Homo sapiens: one gene and its partners. The protein of the gene in region 2 purifies or fractionates together with the protein of the main gene of each other region. This does not show direct contact. Each region holds a gene or a part of one and is shown on either strand. Other genes may lie near its edges.

Region 1 (7,407 bases), on a different chromosome or scaffold from region 2:
AAGGCAATTTGACAAGCCTAACAAAGACCAAGTTGTTCAAACTATGTTTCTAGGAATATAGTTTAACAGAAACAAGAACAAGTTGAAAACTGTTATGACTATTCATATGTCTCTATATTGTACAGGCAAGTAAGACTGTTGTTCTTCCAAATGTTCCCAATTGAAATCAAAAGAATATCTGTACAGCTCAATTTTCACAATAAGTTTAGAATCAGAAAAAAAAATTTTACTAAATCCTAATGAAATAACAATCTTCCACATAAATTAGGTCACAAAACAAGTAAGAAAGCATTCAAAGTTGCGCTGTCTTTCTTTAAAGAACCCTTGTCTAGGCAACATATTTAACACTTTAACCCCTTCAATTCTCCCTGAAAAGTATTTTTCCATTCATCATCATTGGGGAGTAAGTACTCCTTCCTCGAAAGCTCTTAACGACAGCACAGTCTTCACTCTAGGCCCAATTTTTACCTGGCCCATGCCTCTAGCCTTTTGTTCAGTTTCTCCTGCTTAGGGCACCTTTCATCCCATCTAGATGTGTCTCTCTTTAACTATTCTAGGAGTTGATAAAAGGGCTAGGAAGTAGGAAGTTGGGAAGAAGGGGAGGGGCGTAAGAGCTCTAGCACTCTATTTTACAGGCCAACTTCTTTGCCTCTGAAAATGACAGAGCCAAAATGAAATAAAAACCTTGCTTTTACAAATGTTTCTGAGCTATCACTTTTTTAAGAGAGGATTGGGAGGCTAAGGAGGGCGGATCACGAGATCGGGGTTCGAGACCAGCCTGGCCAGCATGGTGAAACCCCGTCTCTACTAAAAATATAAAAATTAGCCGGGCGTGGCGGCGCGCGCCTGTAGTCCCAGCTACTCGGGAGGCTGAGGCAGGAGAATCGCTTGAACCCGGGAGGTGGAGGTTGCAGTGAGCCGAGATCGCGCCACTGCACTCCAACCTGGGCGACAGAGCAAGACTCCGTCCTCCGTCTCAAAAAAAAAAAAAAAAAAAAAAAAAAGGAAAACAGGGAGAGAGAGGGACCTTGGCAGGAGCCAATGTAGGGCAGGTAGCAATAGAAAGTGACTAGAGGTGAAGGAAGAGCAATGAAGTACCATAAATCACACAGAACAAGTGGCTCACTGCTTTTCTCCTCTGAGTTCATTAACGTCCAGTAACTGTCCACAGGGCATGTGCCCATACTGCTCAATGCAGAGCTGAGTAGGTGGAACAGGCTCCCAAAGCTAGAAATCCAAGTGACAGCAACCAGTTCAGAGGCCCTGGGAATAAACAGGGTCCAAGCAGTGCAGATAAAGGCAGTACAATCTACAGTATCATTTGCTTGGCTTACAAGTAGTGTGAAGGATGACCTCGTAGCATGTGATATTCCAGAACAGCATGAAGGTCATATGGAAGTGGAGAAGCATACCCACCACCGTCTCAATCTTGAGGTTGAGAGAACTGAATATCCAAAGGAAACAGGGTGCAGAAAAGTCAGCAAAAACAAAGCACAATAGAAGGCATACTCATTGCTGATGCCCAAGCACAGGTCCAGCAGAAGGTGGTAGGAGACCTTGTGCAGGAGTATTCCCAAGGGCAAATGTTAACCAGACTGGAACCCAAAGGGCCTGGGGATCTCTACAGGCTCCCTTAGCGGGCGACGTCGGGCTCTACGGACTCCTTCACGCAACAGGTAGTATTGCAGTGGATTTGGCCACAGATCCTCTTTAATAATCTCAGCAATTTTGTCGGACTCTGGAAGGCTGTGGTCTGAAAACCAAGTGAAGAAGCTGCAGATGAGGTCTTGGTTTCTGCGAATGAAGGACTGGGGTTCATGCCCCCTGCGCCATATAATTGGAGTAGAAAGAGACACCACTCGGCCGGAGGATCTTACCTCATATTCCTTGACAATCAGCTTGTTTCTGAAGTAGGGGTTTCTTCTAAAGAAGAACTTGAACTTGCAACCGGTTCTAGGGTGTCTGAGTTCCTTCACCTCTAAATTGGTTATGTACCTTAACATCTCTGCATCTTGGCCCCTAATCATGGCGGACAACTGGGGGTGGTTTCGAAAAGCAGTCATCCAGAAGCCCGGGATATTCTGAATGATGTAGTTCCTCCGCTCCAGGTAGTGTCGACGCATCCGCCCAAACTTGTGCTCCAGCTGTTGGAAGGCCCTGTCGGCCTGAGCATTCACAGTGTCCAGTTCCAGCTGGATGGCCTCCAGAGGGTCCATGCGGAGAGCCTCATGCAAAGGCCAGGGCCCTTCTTCCTCCCTCGCCTCCTCCTCCAATCTATCCTCCTCCGCCACTTCTATTTCTTCACCTTCTGGCGGCTGCTCCTCTACCTCCATCTGCTCCTCCATTACCTCCTTCTCCGCCAGGCCTTCCTTCACCACCTCAGCGCTCTCCCTCTCAGCCACGGCTGCTGAGACGGTGGCGCACTTTCCTGTCTTCACCTCCTCCGCCTCAGCCTCCGCCCCCGCCGTCAGCTCAGACGCGGATCTCTGGGCGCCACAGATTTCTAGGGCCTTCTCTCCACCCTGAACGCCCTTTTTCAGGCTGCGGTCGGCTGCCATCACCACAGAAGCGGCTGCCAGGCCTTCGGCGGGAGGCTGGCCCTCTTCCTGCCCGGCTTTGATCGCCACATGACCGCGACCCCCAACAACTCGGATCTGGGGAGTACCGCCACGGCCCGCGGCATCCTGGGGTACGCCCCCCTCCTCTGAAGGCGGTGGAGGCGGGAGCGCGACGGTCTCCGAGCCTCCCTCACCCGGCTCCGCCATCACCTGTGTCGCCTCGCTTTGGTCGCGGAGCCTCAGGTACTGGTGTGCGTCCTGGTCGCTCGGGACTTGGTCAGAAATAATGATGCTGTGGGTTTGGAGGGGAGTGGTCCTCTTGACCCCATCCAGGCCGCTCATGTTGCTAACAGTCGGACCAACCGCAGGCGAACGCCCGTTTTCCTCAGAGGCCGAACTGGGAGCTAACCGCCGCTCGCACCGCCCACCCTACAGTCTCACTAACATTTCAGCGGCGGTGTCGTCAGGACTGGAGATCTCACGGTATCGCGAGAACTTGCTGAGCCCGGGATTGGTTCCGCCGCTCCCTGCCAGCCAACCGGATTCTCTGGGCTTTATTTCTGTGAATTTACCCATAGCAACAGTAATTTTACCTACGTAAATAAATGTCGATTGTGCTGAGTCTGGAAGCGCGGACGACCCACCTTGAGATGCATCTAGCGACTGCTCCCAGCATGTAGGAGCAGTTGTAAAATCACAGCCGTAACAGTGCCTGCTCTCCAGTGTCTGAAAACAAATGTTTTTCTGGTCTTCACTTTTTTGAGGCAGGAAGGTAAATCTATTCCCTGTTACTCCACGTAACTAGCAGCAAAAGACTTCTCTTTAAGATTAATAGCAAAATGTTTCCCCCCTTCTTAGTAAAAGTGACATAAAAATATCAATTCTTGCCTCTACGGTTACTGGGGAAAAAAAGCTACTCAGCAGCCTCTTACCACTAAAGCGATGCATAGTATTCATTGCTAATTTTCGATTTATAATCTGCATCAAATAAGAGTTTGTGCTGCATAGTATCGGTAGAAATTAAGCCAGGATCAGTTTGCTAAATGTTCCATGCCTTTTCACTGCAAGAAAGAGGAAATTATAACTATTTCCAGCCCCAAGAACTTAATTTATTATCATATTTAGTTATGTAAGATAGGAATGTTTGGCTCTAACGAAGCATCTGTCTTTAGCAATCAGCTGAGTTCATTAGAGGGGGATGTCAATGTCTCTGGTTGAAGTGTTCCAGTTTGTTGACTTGTGAGTTAAACTGGTGCTGTCTTAGAGAGCTACAAGGCCTCAGAGAAATATCAGTGGGGGGAGCCACATACCACCATTTTGTGAGGAAAGGCTAGTTAAAATGGACAACTAAGATGGCCTTGAAGTAGAAAACAAACTTGCAAAGGGCAACATGCAGCTGGTGGACTCAAGGTATAAAAGAGGCAAACGTTATTTTCTACTTAATTTGCTTTGTGTGGTAGTAGCCTGATGGCCCTCAAAGATGTACCTGTCTTAGTTATGCGGCCAAAGGGACTTCGCAGATATGATTAAGTTAAAGATTTGGAGATGAGAAGATGATTCTGGATTATACAGGTGGGCCCTATGGAATTACAAATTTCTTATAAGAAGGAGGCAGGAGGGTCAGTCAGAGAAGATAAGAGGACGAAAGCACAGAGAGAGGGAAGGAATGGTGGAGAATAGGTGTGGGAGGGAGGAAAGGGAAATCGCTATGTTGCTGGCTTTGAAGATGGAGGAAGGAGCCAGGATCGTAGGAATAAAGGCAGCCTCTAGAAGCTTGAAAGGTAAGGAAATAGATTCAATCCTAGAGCCTCCAAAGGAATGACAACACCTTGAGGTTATTACCTCTAAACTCCAGCACTATAAGAAAATAAATTTGTGCATTTTAAGCTATTAAATTTGTGGTAATTTGTTACAGAAGCAATATGAAATGAATACACCTTGGATTAAGGTTTGGTTGCATCTATGGGTGCCTCAAGTTGTTTCTAATAGCAGCCCCTTCTACCTTGCTCATGGCTTCCCGTGAGTTCCTGCCCAACAGCTGTGATGTATTACAGCTTGAATCTGTCTTTCAATATCAAGACCAGAAATATACTTAGGCAAATGCACAGAAAGACAAAATTAAAGCCTAAACATACCACAAACGATATCTGAGGAGACTGTAAACTGCAAGAGGACATGATCATGGTTTCGTTTCCCTCTGTTTATCGAGTGCCTAGCACACTACCTTACACAGTATCCCATAGATTATTAAAATGTTAAATAAAGGAGCAAATGAGCAGAAAACAGTTTCTCTTGCTTGCAACTTGCTCCTTGCGGAAGAGAAGTAAGGGGCATATGGGTTGTCACTCTGCTCTCCTTCCTATCTGCCACTGGCAAACCAGAGGGCTGCTCTATTCTATATAGTAACAGTTTCCTACTCAGGAGAATGAATTTCTATATATGTTTCAAAGGCTCTAAAAGGATAGGAAAAACACAGAGAAAACAATTTTATTTTACAAATAATTTAAGTTTGTGTGGTCACACTGTATGACAAACGAACTCTGAAAAGACCAGCATATTTAGGTGAGTTTACATATCAAAGCCTCGGACTACCAGCACTGTATTTCCAATTCTCTCCTTTCTGAAAAAGTCAAGGTAATCATTTCAGGCTTTACTTCGTTTCTGTCTACAGAAATATATAATGCATTTCTCTCTACAAGTGATGGAGCCTGTGATGCATGGCTGGAATTACTTTTGGTGTAAATAAAAAGGAATATTGGAACTTTCCACAAAGACTGTTTCTAATTGCCATGAAATCATCTTCTATTTTGAACTGGTATAATTTCATTCGGCCTAAAGTGGAAACTTCTATTATTCCAATATGTCTCCTATTTTTTTTTAAGCAGAAAGGAGTGTCAGGCTTGGACCAATCTTAGAATATATGGCTTTATTTGTCAAAGAAGCCATTATGTAATTAATGTAATTAACACTCTTACCAGTAATGCTAGGAAAACTCTAATTAGGATCATGTAAGTATAATCAGGACTCTGCTGAATGTAATTTCCCCCAAATAACGTTGAGACTCTTTAAAGGAACTCTTCCTTCTCTTCTTGTCGAACATGTATAAAGCTGTGATAAGGAATATTTGAATATATAGAGAACGTGATTTAAAATTAGAAGTAATGTATCTCATGTTCTCTGTGTATTAGAAGAAAATTACATTAGAGAAGTGATTGTGATTATAACTATTCCTTGTAGGTGATGGAAAGCTCAGGTTATGATTGCTTTCGGACAAGTGCTCAGGAGAAGGGTCAGTAAAGGGCAAGGATTTTAGAGGGAAAAGCAAATATGCATACTTTATGTCCTATTTTTTTTTAAAGAAAGAATCTTTGCTTGGAAGGAGGAACTCTCTAGGAATGTCAACATGCACCAAGGCTCACGTGCTCAGGGAGTTATTTTGCCATACAGGCAAAGCTGTGGTTGCTATTCAACACAGAATATTGTACTTATTATAGTAGGACTATTACTTGTGGATTTTTTGTTCACCTTTTTGTATCTAAAAAGGCTTAAAAAGGATACCTGTTTCTTTTACATGACACAGGTTATCCTGCTATCTGGGAATTCTCTTTCTGGGTAGATGTTACACATTCTCTAAGACTTACCAAAAACCTGTCTTGCTTTAAAATGTGCTAGGCATTTTACATGCATTAAAGTGTCAAATTTCATAAAAGAGGAAACAGTAACACTGAGAGGCTAACTAACTTTACCAAAGTCATACATAAAGTAACTGGTAAATTCTTTCTCCCTTCTCCTGAGTGCATCTTTCCTAAGTAGCCTATGGCTCCTTAATCTTCCTCACCTGAATTCCTGCAACTCTTTTATGAGCTGCACCATGCAGTTTAGCACTTAATTGTGCTTCTCCTCTTAGGGACTAGTTGATTTATATGTGTCAGTCTCATCATCCCAGCATTCCAGCATCATCTCATGGGATGGGAGCATAGTTGCAGCTTCTTTTGCATTTATTCATCATAGCATGGGGCTCAGGTTTGGGTAGATTCTTTGTTGTTGTTGTTGTTGTTGTTGTTGTTGTTGTTGTTATGGAGTCTCACTCTGTCGCCCAGGCTGGAGTGCAGTGGCATGATCTTGGCTCACTGCAACCTCTGCCTCCCAGGTTCAAGCAATTCTCCTGCCTCAGCCTCCCGTGTAGCTGGGACTACAGACACTGGCCACCACACACGGCTAATTTTTGTATTTTTAGTAGAGAAGGGGTTTCCCCACGTTGGTCAGGCTGGTCTCGAATTCCCGACCTCAGGTGATCCGCCCGCCTCAGCCTCCCAAAGTGCTGGGATTACAGGCATGAGCCACTGCGCCCGGCTAGATTTGGGTAGATTCTTAACAATATTTGTTCATTTGAATAAAATAAACCTCAAATTATCTTACAAAAACAACAGTGTATCTGTACTGGCATATTTTATTTGCAGAGGAAATACATTTTGGCTATGCTTCATATATCACCTTTTTTGCACTTTAAAATATAGGATAAATTGGTCCATGACAGAGCATTTCTGTAATTGACAATAAACTTCACTACCCCCAAAGATAGTTGAATCTTTTCTAATACAGTTCTATGGGAAAACATCTGCAAAAAACCCTGAGGTTTTTCTCCATAATATCAAGGAATCATAGATTCTTTGGGAATGATTTCTCAGGTAGCAAGGAGTTTAGCGGAAGTTCAGACATTTTTGTTTTGCAGAAAGGTAGGTTTTATCATTATAATTAATGATAGCTTTCACTTATTTACTGCTCCTGATGTACCAGCCACTTTTATAAACAACATCCAGTGTGTCACATCTTTTAGTTGTCATAAGAA
Region 2 (7,018 bases):
CTACACAGAAGAAATAAAAAGAAACATGACCAATGAAAACTCATTTGTGTAAAAAAAAAAATTCATATATATTTCTCTCACCACTCAGAATTTTAAAAGATTCCTCTTCCCTTAACTCAATATAATAAAGCTAACTCTTTATTATTAAGACTATAAGAATTTTAGAAACAGGCTGGGTGTGGTGGCTCACACCTGTAATCCCAACACTTTGGGAGGACTAGGCAGGAAGATCACTTGAGGCCAGGAGTTTGAGACCAGCCTGGGCAACAAAATGAGACCCTGTTTGCATTTTTTAAAAAGAAAGAATTCTAGAAACAACCATCCTCAATTATTTTCATCCATTCTAAAAACTAGAACTGTTTACTCATCAGTATTAGTAATCTACTCATCAGTAAAGAATAAATTATTAACTACTTAGTAATTTACTAACTAATCTCAGTAGATTATAAATCAATAGCTATTATTAAGTTATTGATAATAATTGAAGCCAATAAAAACAAAGCCCAACTATGGGTCAAGCACTTACTACATGCCAGGCATTGTTCTAGGCCTTGGCAGTGAGCAAAACAGACAAAAATTCCTGCCTTTGTGGACCTGACATTCTGGTGGTTATTATTACCACCGTGGTCTAATGACAAGATACACAGCACATCAGTCCAGCGCACTCTCACATGACGCTGAGAACTGCAGATGGTATCTACCTGAATTCAACAGTGACCATAAAAGCACTTGGCAGGCCGGGCCTGGTGGCTCACACCTGTAATCCCAGCACTTTGAGAGGCCGAGGTGGGTGGATCACCCGAGGTCAGGAGTTTGAGACCAGCCTGGTCGACATGGCGAAACCCCATCTCTACTAAAAAAATACAAAGATTAGCCAGGCATGGTGGCGCGTGCCTGTAGTCCCAGCTACTTGGGAGGCTGAGGCAGGAGAATTGCTTGAACCCAGGAGGCGGAGGTTGCAGTGAGACGAGATTGTGTCACTGCACTCCAGCCTGGGGAACAGAGTGAGACTCCATCTCAAAAAAAAAAAAAAGCACTTGGCAACTTAAGAGAAAAAAAGAAGGGGCCTGTGCTGAGACAGTTCCCATGAGTTCACCAACAACAGGCAATCCTGCCCACCATGCCACTTAATGGGGACTGTGCCCCAGAGGGCAGGAGACAGGGGAGAGGGAGTCCCCTTGGTCCCCCTCCCCATCCATCTTGATTCCTGGAAAAATCAAAGTGTGGGCATCTCACCTTGCCAGTCTCATGTTTAAGTCTCTGTCACTTCTGCTCCACATGCAAAGCTCTAAATGCAAACCAAACCCCTGGTCAGCTGTTCACTGAAGGATCAGTCATGTGTTCCAGTGCCTTAATGAGTGACTTGAATTCTCGAAGGTAATTCTGATTATGTCATTTGCACTTTATGAACTGACTTTAGAATCTAAGCCCACTTGGAGTAAGATTCAGTCCATTCTACATTTCTCTGTTAGACCCAAATTAAAGAACGTGGTCTTGGAGATTCTGTTTTTAAAAAAAAGGGTCTTCACTCCCTAAAGACTGCAAGGTTAAGACGCTCACGCTTCCCCTCGGGAGACCAAGATTCTGGCATCCTGCCAGGTGTCTGCCATCTCCACGGTAGCTCTCCCATCCACTCACTTTGCTAGTGTACTTGGCAATATCAGCGGCGACATCAGCTGAGGCAGTGGCGATGGGCAGGTCAGCGTTGACTGAGGACACAAGGGTGCTCATGGACCCCGAGCTGGTGACCAGGGGCGATGACTGTGTGCTGGTCACCAGGGTGATGGTGGACGTGGATGGGCTCTGTGTGATCTCCTTCTGCTGGACAGCTAGGAAGGCAAAGCATCCTGATTACCCCACGTGGGAAGGACCCATCCCAGCACAAAGCTGTGGTGTAGAAGCAAAGCCCCTAATAGACATCCTGAGAGCTTTTCTACTTTTAAATGACAAAGATGCTCCCCTTGACCAAACTCTATCCAGGTTTCTCAACTAGGCCCTAACCTTGGCCTGGAAAGACTTGAGCAAACATTGACAGTTTCTAAGAGCTCAAGAGTGCATGCTAGGATGACCCCAACCCCCTCTTAAAGCGACTGCCTGGGAAAACTCAATGCTGGCAAAAGAACTGACAGTTTTGTTCCAGCCAACACCTGAAGACAGGACCTCAGCATCCCAGTGTCTATGGGAGAGTAGGGGCCCAACTTCATGAAGTGCCCGTTAGCAAATCAAGATGTTTAACTTCCCTGACTCTACTGAGGCCCAACTCGCTCCCATCCCTACTCCCTCATTCTCCCTTTAAAATGTCCAGTCACCCCTGTACAAATCAAAGTTAATTTCAGCTTATGCTAGACTCTTGCCCCTATTACAGTAGCATATTACCAATTTAAATTGGTCTTTACCCCTTTAACTAGGCTTTACTTTGGCGTAAGACAATCTGAAGCAATGAGCCACTTTTTGGCAGCGCTCTTTTTTTTTTTTTTGACAGTCTCACTCTGTCGCCCAGGCTGGAGTGCAGTGGTGCAATCTTAGCTCACTGCAACCTCTACCTCTGAGGTTCAAGGGATTCTCATGCCTCCCTCCTGAGTAGCCAGGGTTACGGGCATGTGCCATCATGCCCGGCTAGTTTTTTGCTTTTTTTTTTTTTTTCCATTTTAGTAGAGATGGGGTTTCACCATGTTGACTGGGCTGGTCTTGAACTCCTGGCCTCAAGTGATCTGCCTGCCTTGGCCTCCCAAAGTGCTGGGATTACAGGTGTGAGCCACCACGCCCGACCCTCTTCTTGGTAGCAATTAAACTCCCCTGGGGAAGTCTCCTGCTTATGAGATATGAAGACAGAAGACAGGAAGCCGCAATCCCAATCTCAAATATCCTAGACTCGGCTTTGCCCCACCAACTTTTTAAATAGCAAGATTAATCCAACTGTACTCTCAATTTTGCCTGGCCAATTCTTCAGGACCCACTCCCTCGCCATCTGTGAAGGGTTTCACTGGGGGCCAATTCAAGACCTGGCCACCTTTCAACCTCACATTCTGCTGCTCATGAGCCCCCCTCACAGGGGCGCATTCACTATGAGTTTCAGTTGAAGAACCCAGCCTTTGAGGATCTAGATGCAGGTTTCCTGGTAGAAAGATCTACATCAATGCTCACAAAAGCCAGGCAAACTGGTACCAACCAGTCAGATCAGCACTGTGTTTGGCCTAATTTCAGCTCCAGATGGAGCCTCCTGCAGGACTGGTGGGAGTTCTGATTCTGCAACTTCAGCAAGTGGTTCTTGAGGCTGGCTCATCTTGTGTGTGTGACGAATCTCCAGTTACTAAGGTAACCTTCGCTATCAACTTCTCGCACTGTACTTTTTCCAAAATAACTCCAAGAGGTTCCCTCATGTGCACAAGGAAATTTATACAAAGATATTCATTGCAGCACTGCTCACAGTAGAAAAAAAACTGAAAGCAACCTAAATGCCCATTAGTAGAGGAATGCTTTAAATAAACTATGAAATACTATGCAGCAGTCCAAAAGAACAAGGCAGGGCTGTATGTGCTGATGTGGATGGACCTCCAAAACATGCTGATGGGTGGGGGAAAAAAGCAAGTATGGTACCATTTTTATGTTTTAAAAAAGAAAAAAAGGGGGGAAAAAGGACTAATTTTATGGCATCATATACATGATGCGCACATATATACATACAGATATGTATATATACATATACATGCATACATGCATAGAAAAGCTTTTACAACGGTTGATACTGGCCACTGTGGAAGGGAAGAGAATGAAATGGAAGGTAAACGGGATAACAGACTTTTATGTAAAACTTTCTGCCCCCTTTTTAAGGAGAATATATGCATGTATCATTTATAAAATGAACAAAAAAAACTTTTTGAAAGTAAAAAAGCAAGTAGCAAAACAATTTTTAAAAATAATGCCAAATGGAATGTGCAAGGCCTTCAAGATACAATGGCCCGGAAACAAACGAGAACTAAAAAAAAAAAATAAAAGAGCAATGACTTTCTCCTGTCGATGTGGCAAAATGGGAGCGGGCGCCACGGAGAACAGAAGGGGAGGCTCGGTACCTTTCACAGCCTGTCTGGTCTGATATCTCGTCCCCTGGGAAGACTGAGGCTGCTGCTGCTGGTTTTGCTGCTGCTGCTGCTGCTGCTGACGCTGCATCTTCTGCATGTGCCACTTTTGGGAGGACGTTTGAAACTTACTTGATGAGTTCCACACGACCCGCTGCACGGCCGGGGCAGTCTCCTTCGGTAAAAGCGGCCTCTGCTTTTTCACTGGGCTTCCTGTGGCGGCGGGGGCCGGGGCCGTGACGGTGACCGTGGAGGACGTGCTGGTGGTGGCTGTGGCGCCAGCCGCGGAAGTTTGGGCGGAAGAGCGGGTGAGCACCGGTGTTTCCGGGGGAGAATGGCTGCCCACCGTCGTGGATGGTGGAGTTTTACCTACAACTAGCCAATGCATGAAGAAAAAACAAACAAAAACCGGATTTCACTCAGGTTCACCTGCACGGTCTTGACGCCACCAAGTTCTGGGTAAAACCTATGAAAGCCAGGAATGCCGAACCAATTCGACGTGCCAAGCACACCGCGCTGGAGGAGTACATTCTCACCTAACGCTGAGGCCACTTCTGCGGCGTCTTCCATCTCCGCGAGCAGCGGCCTCCTTTACTGAGCGCCGGCCCACATCTGAGATACAAGTCAAGACCTCTAGGGGAGAATGAGGCAAACAAGACCCGGCTCCTGCGCTCAAGCTCCCCTACACCTAGTGGACAATGCGGTGGGCGAACAGATTCAATGTTCACGCCCTTTTCGCAAAGTTAAAATCTAGTCGGCACCTTGAGAAGGGCCCAGCGGAAGTCAATCCAGACAGGAAGAGCAATTCTTTGGCTAGGGAACGTAGAAAGCAATACCTCCAAAGAGCCAGATGGCCTCCCAATGGCCAAAGCAGTAACACTCAGTCACCCAGAAAGAAAAGTATTCTTTTCATCTCTTCTGATTCCCTCCAGGACAAAGTTTGAAGGCGGTACTGATAGCCAGGACAATACCAGGAAAACAAATTCTGCCCCAAGGCCAGAACCTTCCCCCAACGCAATGGTACTGATCTAGGATTGAGTAGCATTGCTTTGGTTTTGATTGGATTTATTCCTATCACCAGCTTTTATGTATACTGTGTGCTACTGTTCTTATTGGGTGGTGTTCAAGTCTAAAATGAGTTTATACTTGCAGATGCTTTTTTCAGGGGAAATTTTTTTACTAAAAAAATGAGGCCAAGCACGGTGGCTCACGCCTGTAATCCCAGCACTTCGGGAGGCTGAGGCAGGCGGATCACTTGAGGTCAGGATTTTGAGACCAGCCTGACCAACATGGGGAAACCCCGTCTCTATTAAAAATACAAAAAAATTAGCCAGACGTGGTGGGAAACTGAGGCAGGAGAATTCCTTGAACCCAGGAGGCGGAAGTTGCAGTGAGCCGAGATCGCGCCACTGCACTCCGGTCTGTGAGAAAGAGTGAGTGAGACTCCGTCTCAAAAAATATTACTAATAGGCCGGGCGCAGTGGCTCACGCCTGTAATCCCAACACTTTAGGAGGCTGAGGTGGGCGGATCACTTGTGGTCAGGAGTTCAAGAGCAGCCTGGCCAACATAGTGAAACCCCGTCTCTACCGAAAATACAAAAATAGCCGGGTGCGGTGGCAGGCGCCTGTAGTCCCAGCTACTCAAGAGGCTGAGGCAGAAGAATCGCTTGAACCCGGGACGTGGAGGTTGCAGGGAGCCGAGACCATGCCATTGCACTCCAGCCTGGGTGACAGGGTGAGACTCCGTCTCAAAATAATAATAATAATAAATGAAAAGTAAATAAAATGAGTTTATTTTATTTATTTATTGAGATGGATTCTCACTCTGTCACCCAGGGTGGAGTGCAGTGGCACAAACTTGGCTCACTGCAACCTCCGCCCTCTGAGTTCAAGCGATTCTCCTGCCTCAGCCTCCCGACTACGTGGGATTACAGGCGCCTGCCACCGCACCCAGCTAATTTTTTTTATTTTCAGCAGAGACGGGGTTTCGCCATCTTGCCCAGGCTGGTCTTGAACTCCTGACCTCATGATCCATCCGCCTTGGCCTCCTAAAGTGCTGGAATTACAGGCGTGAGCCAACGTGCCCGGCCTATTTTATTTTATGTTTTAAAGAGATAGAGTTTTGCTATATCACCCCGGCTGGGCTCAAGCAAGCCACTTCAGCCTCCCGAATAGCTGGGACTACACGGGACGTGCTACTGTGTCCCGCTTTAAATGAGCTTAATTTTATTTTTAAAGAATGAGATTCTTGGCCGGGTGCAGTGGCTCACGCCTGTAATCCCAGCACTTTGGGAGGCCGAGGCGGGCAGATCACGAAGTCAGGAGTTCGAAACCAGTCTGGCCAACATGGTGAAACCCCATCTCTACTAAAGATACAAAAAATTAGCCGGGCATGGTGGTGTGTGCCTATAATCCCAGCTACTTGGGAGGCTGAGGCAGGAGAATCGCTTGAACCCATGAGGCAGAGGTTGCAGTGAGCCGAAATCGCCCCATTGCACTCCAGCCTGGGTGACAGGGCGAGACTCCGTCTCAAAAAAAAAAAAAAAAAAAAGATTCTTTAAATAAAAAAAGTCAAAAATTATACAAGCAGGACTTGAGAACGGGAAAGACAATGAATGTGAATGACTCAAGTTTGAAAAACGCTGCCATATGGAGTATGTCATCTTGGAGGAGCTGGGCTGGTGGGGAATAAAGGGTAGGATTTCAACAGGCGGAAAGTGAGAATCTGGAGGGAACAGCATCAGCCAAGATATGTCTAGGAATACAGAGCATTTGAGTAAGTGAGGGCAGGCAGGGAGGAGGGGCTGGAAGGGAGGTTAGAGCCAGAAGCACTGAGCAGCACGTAGAGGCGATGACCACACGGGAGCTCATTTGTAAAGGTGGCTCAGTTATGGATGCACAGGCCTCAGCCCCCGGTAAGGTGAGCCTATGCCCCAGAGAGG
Region 3 (7,972 bases), on a different chromosome or scaffold from region 2:
TAGACAGATACTAGGGAATGAGACATTAGGCTGGACAAAGCACCATCAGCCTCCCTGCTTCTCAGCCCAGAATAAGACCAGGCACAAGAACGCCCCTCCCATTCCCCCTTGGGAATGCAACATCAGCCTGGATTTCACCAGAAAGAATCATTTTCTTAAGGACTTTTCCCCACCAATCCCCAAGTCAACCCCCAACCCCCATCAGCTACATCTCACCACCCCCATAAAAGCTGGAAGTGGAGACAAAGACAACCCATGGAGGCAAAGGGGACATCCTTCCATGCACATGGAGCCCCCCAAACTTCTCAGGCAAATAATATGCTGAAATGGCAAACCGCAAACTTACTGAGATATAGAGAAGATTTAGGAAAGGGACAGGAATGGGGTGTGGCAAGTGGAAAAAGTGGGTCATGCTACAGCTCAGGACAGAGTTCACAGCTCCTGCGCAGCTCCCGGTCAACATGAAAGGCAGCCCCAGCCCAAGTGGCCAATGGGAGGCCAAGACGTGGAACCCAGAATGTTTAGGCAGCACTACTGTTTCTCATGCCCCTCTCAGAAGGACAGGGTCCCCTTACCAGCACCACAACTCCGCCCTCACCTTGGGCAAGGGCATGGAAATCTGCCCCCTACTCTACACAAGGATGAAACCAAGTTTCTCATCCCAACAGCCCAGACTCCATGACAACACTAACCCCTCTCCTAAATGGCCTCAGGTTGAAGTGAAGAATTCCAACTTAAAAAGTGCCAAATGTGAAAGCATCTCTCCCAGACCACCTCAACTTCCACTGAAGCTAAGAAGAGAGAAGGCAGAAGTGAATGATGCTGGATGAGAAACAAAAACAGGATCAGCAGGCTCCAGAATGAGAAGAAAACTAGAAGCAGAAGGAATGAAGAAATGACATGTAGAAAAAAAAATTAAACTAGAAAACATGAAGGTCAAGGAGATGAGTAGGTGACACAGCTAGGGGCTCTGAAAAAGGACACAGAAGAGAAAGACATCTGCTTAGGGGCATGACATCAACCATCATTTGAGGATAGACAACAGTTCCCCCAATCAGACAGGGTGGTTACAACCATACGGGTTTGGCCAGTTCATGAAGCCACCCCAAAACACAGATAGCGTAACCCCTAGCACACCTACACAGACACTTCACACTGCCAGCCTAAACCGCAGGCTACCTCATAGAGACAGAAGCCACTAGGAAAAAAGCCAAAACTATGTCCACTCACCAGGAGGAGGAGTGCCCTCCCTTCTTTTGCCCCTCTTCACTAGGCTATTACATCCTCCCCGAGCCCCCATCACTTCCCCACTCAAAACATTCCAGCAATCTGCCTGGCTGCTTTAAGCACTCCAGATCCTGCTGAGGAGCGCGATTCAAACTTCACACAGTTCAGACAGCACAGAAAACCGGTAACCGATCAGAAGCTAAAAATAATCAGATAGAGTGTAACCAGCACTCCCTCTTTCCTTTCCACAGCAGCAACCACAGGATCCTACTAGCACAGATGCCCGGCTGGTCTTTCAAACAGAATCCTCAACGCCCCCCTCCACCACCACCACCACAAGCCTCCAGGGGTCCCAGCTACCTGCATTCCTCCGAGGACCCACATACCAGGTAATGCCTGCCAGCCCAGAGAGCTCCCTCAACTGGGAACTGCAGAGCATTCCTCAAGACAGAGTGCAGCAAGCTGGCATCTCCGTGCCCAGGAGGCACATGGCTTCCACCCCCCTCACACCAGAGCTCCGCAGAAGGGAACCACTCCCTTCGGATACCCTCCACCTCCGGCTCTGCACAGAGACAGCGGAGCAACACAGCCCTGCCTCACCAGAGGAGTCACTCGGGAGAGCCCCAGATGTCTCCTTCCCGCCATGGGCCCTTGGGGAAGATGTTACCTGGGTGGGGTGGGGGCAGGCTGTTGTTCAAAAGTGCATCCATATCCTCCTCCTCACTGCCCGCCGAGCAGGGGGACGGGGAGCCCAGGCCCGACGCCATCCCCTTCCGCTCCCGGCCAGGGAATTGGCCCAGCTGCTCCTGCCGGCGGCCTGAGGACCTCTACACTGGCCCGAGTCACTGTGCGGGGGAGGGGGGAGAAACACAGAACAGTCAGTGACGCGCACTGTCCCCCTCCCCCACACCCACCCGCTCTTTCCGCCCCCCACCCCAGCCACCCTAGCAGGGCACCCGAACCGCTCAGGCTGAACTTAGTTCCACACTCCTCGGGGGCAGCCCGGAAGCCGGCTCCCCGGCAGGCGCCCCCACGGAGCGAGGGAGCGACGCCTCCGAGGGCAGGCTGGTGCAAGCGCGGGGAGGGGAGACGCGGGGCTGGACCGAGCGGGGTGTGACGGGGGAGGGGGTCCGAGTGGCAGCGGCGCGGGGGGGCCAGGGGAGGCCGCAGGCGGCGAGGCGCTCGGGGACACAAGGTCACTTGGGGGTGGGGGGGCGCCTCCCTGCGCCCGGGGAGGGGCCAGTCCCCAGACAGGGCAGCTCTCCAAAGGCTGTCCTCTGGGACAACTCAGGTTCTCCTCAAGAGCTGCGGGGACGAGGGGGCGTGGAGGCTCGGGCGCTGCGGGGGGCCGGAGGCAGGGACGCGGGGGGCGAAAGCGTCCCACCGGGAAGGGGGCCGGGCCACGTGTCCCGGGGGGCAAGTGATCAAAGGGCGAGGGGGTGGGCGCCGGGCATTGTGGGAGACCAAGCCGGAGGCGGGGGGTCGCGGGGAGCAAGACTCCGGCAGGGTTAGGGCGGGGGCTGGGGAGGAGGCCGGGCGCCCTGCAGGGCCAGGAAAGGAAGGGTCGGCTCCTCTGGGCAAGGGGCGGTCCGCGGGTCCGGAGACGCCTGAGGAAGGGGCGGGTGACGGGATGACCCTCGGGGCTGGTAGGGCCGTGAGGGGCGTCTCTTTGGGAACCCCGCGCTCTCCTCACCCCGGAGCCGCCGCAGGTCGCGCTGGGTCCGGCTCGGTGTCACTCCCGCTCCGGCTCCTCCTCGCCGCGGCCGAAGGGGGGAAAATGGCTCCGGCTCCAGCGTCGCCTCTTAAAGGGCCTGAAACACCGGCCGGGAAATCCCACCGCACAGGCCCCGCCCCCCCACGGACAGCCCATAATAACCTCAACCAACTCCAACCCCCCCCTTCCACTACCGCCACCCTCCTCCCCAGGTCTCCCGGGCAACCCCCGCCCCCTCGTCGCTCAGGCAACCACTGGCCACGCCCCCTTCGCAGCGGGCGCGCGCGCGTCACCTGGGCAACCGCCCACCTCCTGGCCATCCCATAATACACACGGACACCCCCCCCCCCAACACACACACACACACACACACACACACACACACACACACACACAACACACACACACCCTGCCCCCCCACATTTCATACACATATGCCAGAGACTGCTGACATCTCAAAATATTGCAGACCTTTTGCAACTAACCCTCTTAGACATCCCATAATAGACATCCTTTGCCAACTTCTTCTTCACTCTTGGACCTAATGCTAACATCCCATAATAATTCATCACCCCTCCCTCCCCATGGCCATCCCATAATAAGCACCCCTCGCAGCACTTATGCCTCATATCCCATAATATTCAGCCCCATCCCCCACAGACATCCCATAATAACCATCCTTCATCCACCCCCAGTTTGATATCCCATAATAGTCAGAAACTCACCCCCCCCCATACTACAACAACGGACACTCGGCCTCCTCCCACACACATCCCGTAATAATCAGTCTCCCACTTTCTATACTGACATCCCATAATAACTAACCCCCTAGAGCTGCCCTCAGTCCCTGCAGGCCAGGGTCTAGAGGCTCACATCACCCCCAGCCTTCCCTCTTCTAGCTCCACAGCCTATAGTAAGTACCCCTCCTCTATCAAAAAGATAACCCATAATGATCAACAGCCCTACTGTCGCCCCACAGATGGACATCTAATCTCTTTTCCTCTAACACTGGAAAGCTATCCCATAATAATTTTACTCTCCTACCCACATCCTGACATCCCATAATAATTGCAAGGAGCCCGTGGTCAACCAAACATACCATAATACTCCCAACACAACCCAGTGTCACATCCCATAATGCTTCATCTCCACTCTACCACCCCTATACCCTTCGAGCCAGGCATCCCATAATATTCATATTCTTCCCACCCCCATCTCCAGGCGCTGTCAGTCTATTCTAACACCCAGAGCAGGGAGGGCCAGGCAGGCTACCCACGCTTCCTTGTCCCCGCCCCCACTTGCACACACCTTAATCCCTTTCTGGGCCAAAGTAGTATCCTGGCAAAAAGCCTCCTGATGTCTGGGACCCCAGCTTCCCTCATACCATCATTTCCAGACACTCGGGGGCTGGGAGCCCACCTAGGGCCCCACCCAGTCCCACCAAAATCTAGGTATTTTCCAGATGCTTACCTCCAGCTCCTAAGTTTTGAGGAACACCAACCAACCAAAATACCAAGCTGACAGATGAAACATTTACATGAAGTCTAATTCACCCTACAGCATCCCATAATAATTACCAACTCCCATCCAAAGACTATCTCTCAACATTCTAGCAATCCTCCCCCTCACCACATCCCCAGGTCAGGGATCTTTCACCAACACCCCCAGGCCATTCCTGGGGATGGACATCCCATCACGATGTGAACTCAGGTTCCTGCTCTATACACACCAAGAGTGAAGGCCTGCCCTCCCGCTACTCACCACTACTCATGTTCATTCAACCTGTGTTGACAGAGTACCTAGCAAGGCCGAGCTCCGCACCATGGAGAATCAAGGAAGACCAGGGGGCCTCCCTTCAAAAAGCATAAGCAACCAAGCAAACTATGATACACGACAGAATGGTGCCAAGGGAGAACTGCTGAGCACTGTTTCCCAATTTCCTGTTACAGAAAATAAAATCCCACTGGTTCCAAGAGAGAACATATCCCAATAAGATTTATCGTGGTCCTTCTAGAGGCTGGAAGATGATACTTAAAGGATTTATGGGTATAGACCATAGTCAACATGATCTCCTATCTGTTCCCTACTTACTAGGGGATTTTTCTTGGAAAGCAATGTTCATCCATCCAGCATTCCTAATACTGAAATCCTATAATATGTTCATGTCCTTCCTTCTTAAGAGACTCCACAATATACCAGCATTGTTTCCCTCATTCTTGAACACCAAATCCTGCTTATCCTCAATGTCCCATATTTTTCAGGCACTTTCCCATTTTATATCCTGAAGTCTCATAGTATCTCCAATGGCCTCCATCCTCATCTTGTTGGGGCCACATTCTCCACCTCAAAAAAAAAAAAATCTTTAGTTGTATAATGTTCCCCATCTTCCCCTGCCTGTATAGAAGTCAATATTCCAGCGGGGCATGGTGGCTCATGCCTGTAATCCCAGCACTTTGGGAGGCCAAGGCAGGTGGATCACAAGGTCAGGAGTTCAAGACCAGCCTGGCCAAAATGGTGAAACCCCGTCTCTACTAAACATACAAAAATTAGCCTGACATGGTGGCACGTGCCTGTAATCCTAGCTACTCAAGGGCTGAGGCAGGAGAATTGCTTGAACCCAGGAGGTAGAGGTTGCAGGGAGCTGAGATTGCACCACTGCACTACAGCCTGGGCAACAGAGCAAGACTCTGCCTCAGAAAAAAAAAAAAAAAAAAAGAAGTCAGCAGTCCAGGAAACCTTCTACATTGAATTATGCCCCAAGGTAGCCCTCCAGCGTATACCATCTCCTTCCCTTATTATGCATACCCTCCAGCCACCCTATGGACCCAATCCTAGAAGCTGAAATAACCGAATTTTTTTTGTTTTGTTTTTTGTTTTTTTGAGAGACAGGGTCTCAGTGGCGCAATCACAGCTCACTGCAACCTCAACCTCCTGGGCTCAAGTGATCATCCCACCTCAGCCTCCCACCTGTAGCTGGAACCACGGGCATACACCACCACACCCAGCTAATTTTTAAATTTATTGTAGAGACGGGGTTTCACTATGTTGCCAGGCTGATCTTGAACTTCTGGACTCAAGTGATCTTCCCACCTCAGGAAAGAGCCTAATTTTTTTTTTTTTTTTTTTTTTTGAGACGGAGTTTCGCTCTTGTTGCCCAGGCTGGAGTGCCATGGCGCGATCTCGGCTCACTGCAACCTCAGCCTCCCAGGTTCAAGTGATTTTCCTGCCTCAGCCTCCCGGGTAGCTGGGATTACAGGCATGTGCCACCATGCCCGGCTAATTTTGTATTTTTAGTAGAGACGGGGTTTCTCCATATTGGTCAGGCTGGTCTCGAACGCCCAAACTCAGGTGATCCGCCCGCCTCGGCCTCCCAAAGTGCTGGGATTACAGGCGTGAGCCACTGCGCCTGGCCAGGAAAGAGCCCAATCTTAAAACCCTTTGGCCCTCAGAAAACCTAACCCATCAGCCTGTCACTTTTCCCTTTTCCTGACTCCCAGAGATTCAGGACCTGAGTGAAAACCAATGTCCCAGCACCACTGCCTTGCTGCCCTAACCCCAGGCCAAGGATAATGTCTCCCTCTGCTCATGTACCTTTTTTGCATGGGTCCAAGACCTATGGAAGTGGGACGAGTTGAAAAGAAACTTGGACTTCCTTGTAGAAAGGGCCCTTTACTAACCAGTAGTGAGTGGGATGAACCTCATGCCATCTCTGCATTACCCTTCTCATCTCATTTTCCTAGAGGAAGGCCTGGCCAGATGGCTCTCCCCTTCTCTAGGATCCAAGGGACTGGAGAACTGGTACAAAGAAATGAGTTCAGGGAAGGCAAGAGCTTGCCTCAGGGAATTACAATCCCCCTGCTCCTGAGCAGAGCACCAGGGATGCAGACAAGTCTTCCGCTAGCTCCTGGCTGACTCTGTAGACCCACTAGCATTCCACATTTAACTCTCCTCATCTTAGGACTGGAGTTTTTGGCATCAAAGACATCAGGTCCTGTCAAAAGCTCCCTGTCACCTTTGAAGTAGGTGTTTTCTTTTTCCAACCTTCCCTTCAGCTCCCTGGCCCACCCTCTTGCTGCACTCATTGTGGCAAGCGGGCCATTCTCCCCCGTTCTGCAAGGCTTCCAGTTTCCCTCGTTAAATGCTCTCGACATCAAGACTGGGCCCCATTTACTTACCCAAGCCCTCTCCCATACTTACTCTGAGTACTAAGAATGAAACTTGTGTTCCACAATGGGGGGTGAGGAGGCAGCTCTTTTCAGATACCATGATGTGGGGACACCTCCTTTCAGGGAAGTTTCTCCTTCCTACAGAGGGCTGCCAGATGCCTATTGTGCGCTCTTCTACCCTCATTTCTCCAGGGGATCCAGCCTGTCTCTGGGCCTCAAATTCCCTTCTGCAATATCTCCATCTGCCCATACCCATACTCTCATTTCCACAGTGATCTGTCCATATAAACCAGTAAGAGAGCGTTTGGGTAGTCACAGCCTCCTGCCTGTGACTAAAAATATCCACATTTTATTTATCCATATATCCTTTGTCCACTACTCACCCTGTGTCCCTATTCCTGTAGGTTCTACCCACTTCTTCCTTTGCTGCTCTTGCTCCCCACCTCTCCCTAACACCACAACAAGGAGAAAGTTAAAATCCCTTCCTCTCTTCTTGAGTTCCAGAAAGGGCTCGGAGGTGTGTGCTGGTGTGTTGCTTTGTAGTCCTTATGCTTCTACGCTTCCCCTCCCTCCTCTAGCCCCGTGCTACCCTCCCAGATAAATTATAAATAAACCACTAGCATGACTGGCCCAGGGAGACTAAGGGTGGCATAATCTCCTAATTAATGCACCCAGGAGGGCAGCCTCTCTAGCCAGTTACCTTAGAGTTCTGTTTTCATCCCATGGTACAGAAGAACCTAGAACAACACTCAGAGTGGGTTGTTCATGGAGTTTTTAGCATTTGCTCTATAATTCCTCTCCTTACACCTCTGTTTTGTGTGAACCTGAAAAACTCTGTTCATAAGAGGTCCAAGGGGCCACAGTG

Evidence for each region. The genes of interacting proteins can lie anywhere in the genome.
Region 1: the proteins of ZMYND8 (region 2) and TSPYL1 purify together in Homo sapiens (affinity purification with mass spectrometry; 5 studies listed by BioGRID and IntAct, with this or other methods). This does not show direct contact.
Region 3: the proteins of ZMYND8 (region 2) and CHD4 purify together in Homo sapiens (affinity purification with mass spectrometry; 7 studies listed by BioGRID and IntAct, with this or other methods). This does not show direct contact.

The regions. Positions count from the first base shown.
Region 1 is NC_000006.12:116,276,931-116,284,337, forward strand, and holds the start of TSPYL1 (testis-specific Y-encoded-like protein 1), read right to left. Parts: upstream 3,001-7,407; 5' UTR 2,901-3,000; coding exon 1,587-2,900; 3' UTR 1-1,586.
Region 2 is NC_000020.11:47,234,688-47,241,705, forward strand, and holds part of ZMYND8 (MYND-type zinc finger-containing chromatin reader ZMYND8), read right to left. Parts: intron 4,452-7,018; coding exon 4,071-4,451; intron 1,830-4,070; coding exon 1,639-1,829; intron 1-1,638. UniProt on the Homo sapiens protein: Chromatin reader that recognizes dual histone modifications such as histone H3.1 dimethylated at 'Lys-36' and histone H4 acetylated at 'Lys-16' (H3.1K36me2-H4K16ac) and histone H3 methylated at 'Lys-4' and histone H4 acetylated at 'Lys-14' (H3K4me1-H3K14ac).
Region 3 is NC_000012.12:6,604,380-6,612,351, forward strand, and holds the start of CHD4 (chromodomain-helicase-DNA-binding protein 4), read right to left. Parts: upstream 3,001-7,972; 5' UTR 2,921-3,000; intron 2,073-2,920; 5' UTR 1,995-2,072; coding exon 1,895-1,994; intron 1,617-1,894; exon of another isoform or gene 1,507-1,616; intron 1-1,506. UniProt on the Homo sapiens protein: ATP-dependent chromatin-remodeling factor that binds and distorts nucleosomal DNA. Acts as a component of the histone deacetylase NuRD complex which participates in the remodeling of chromatin.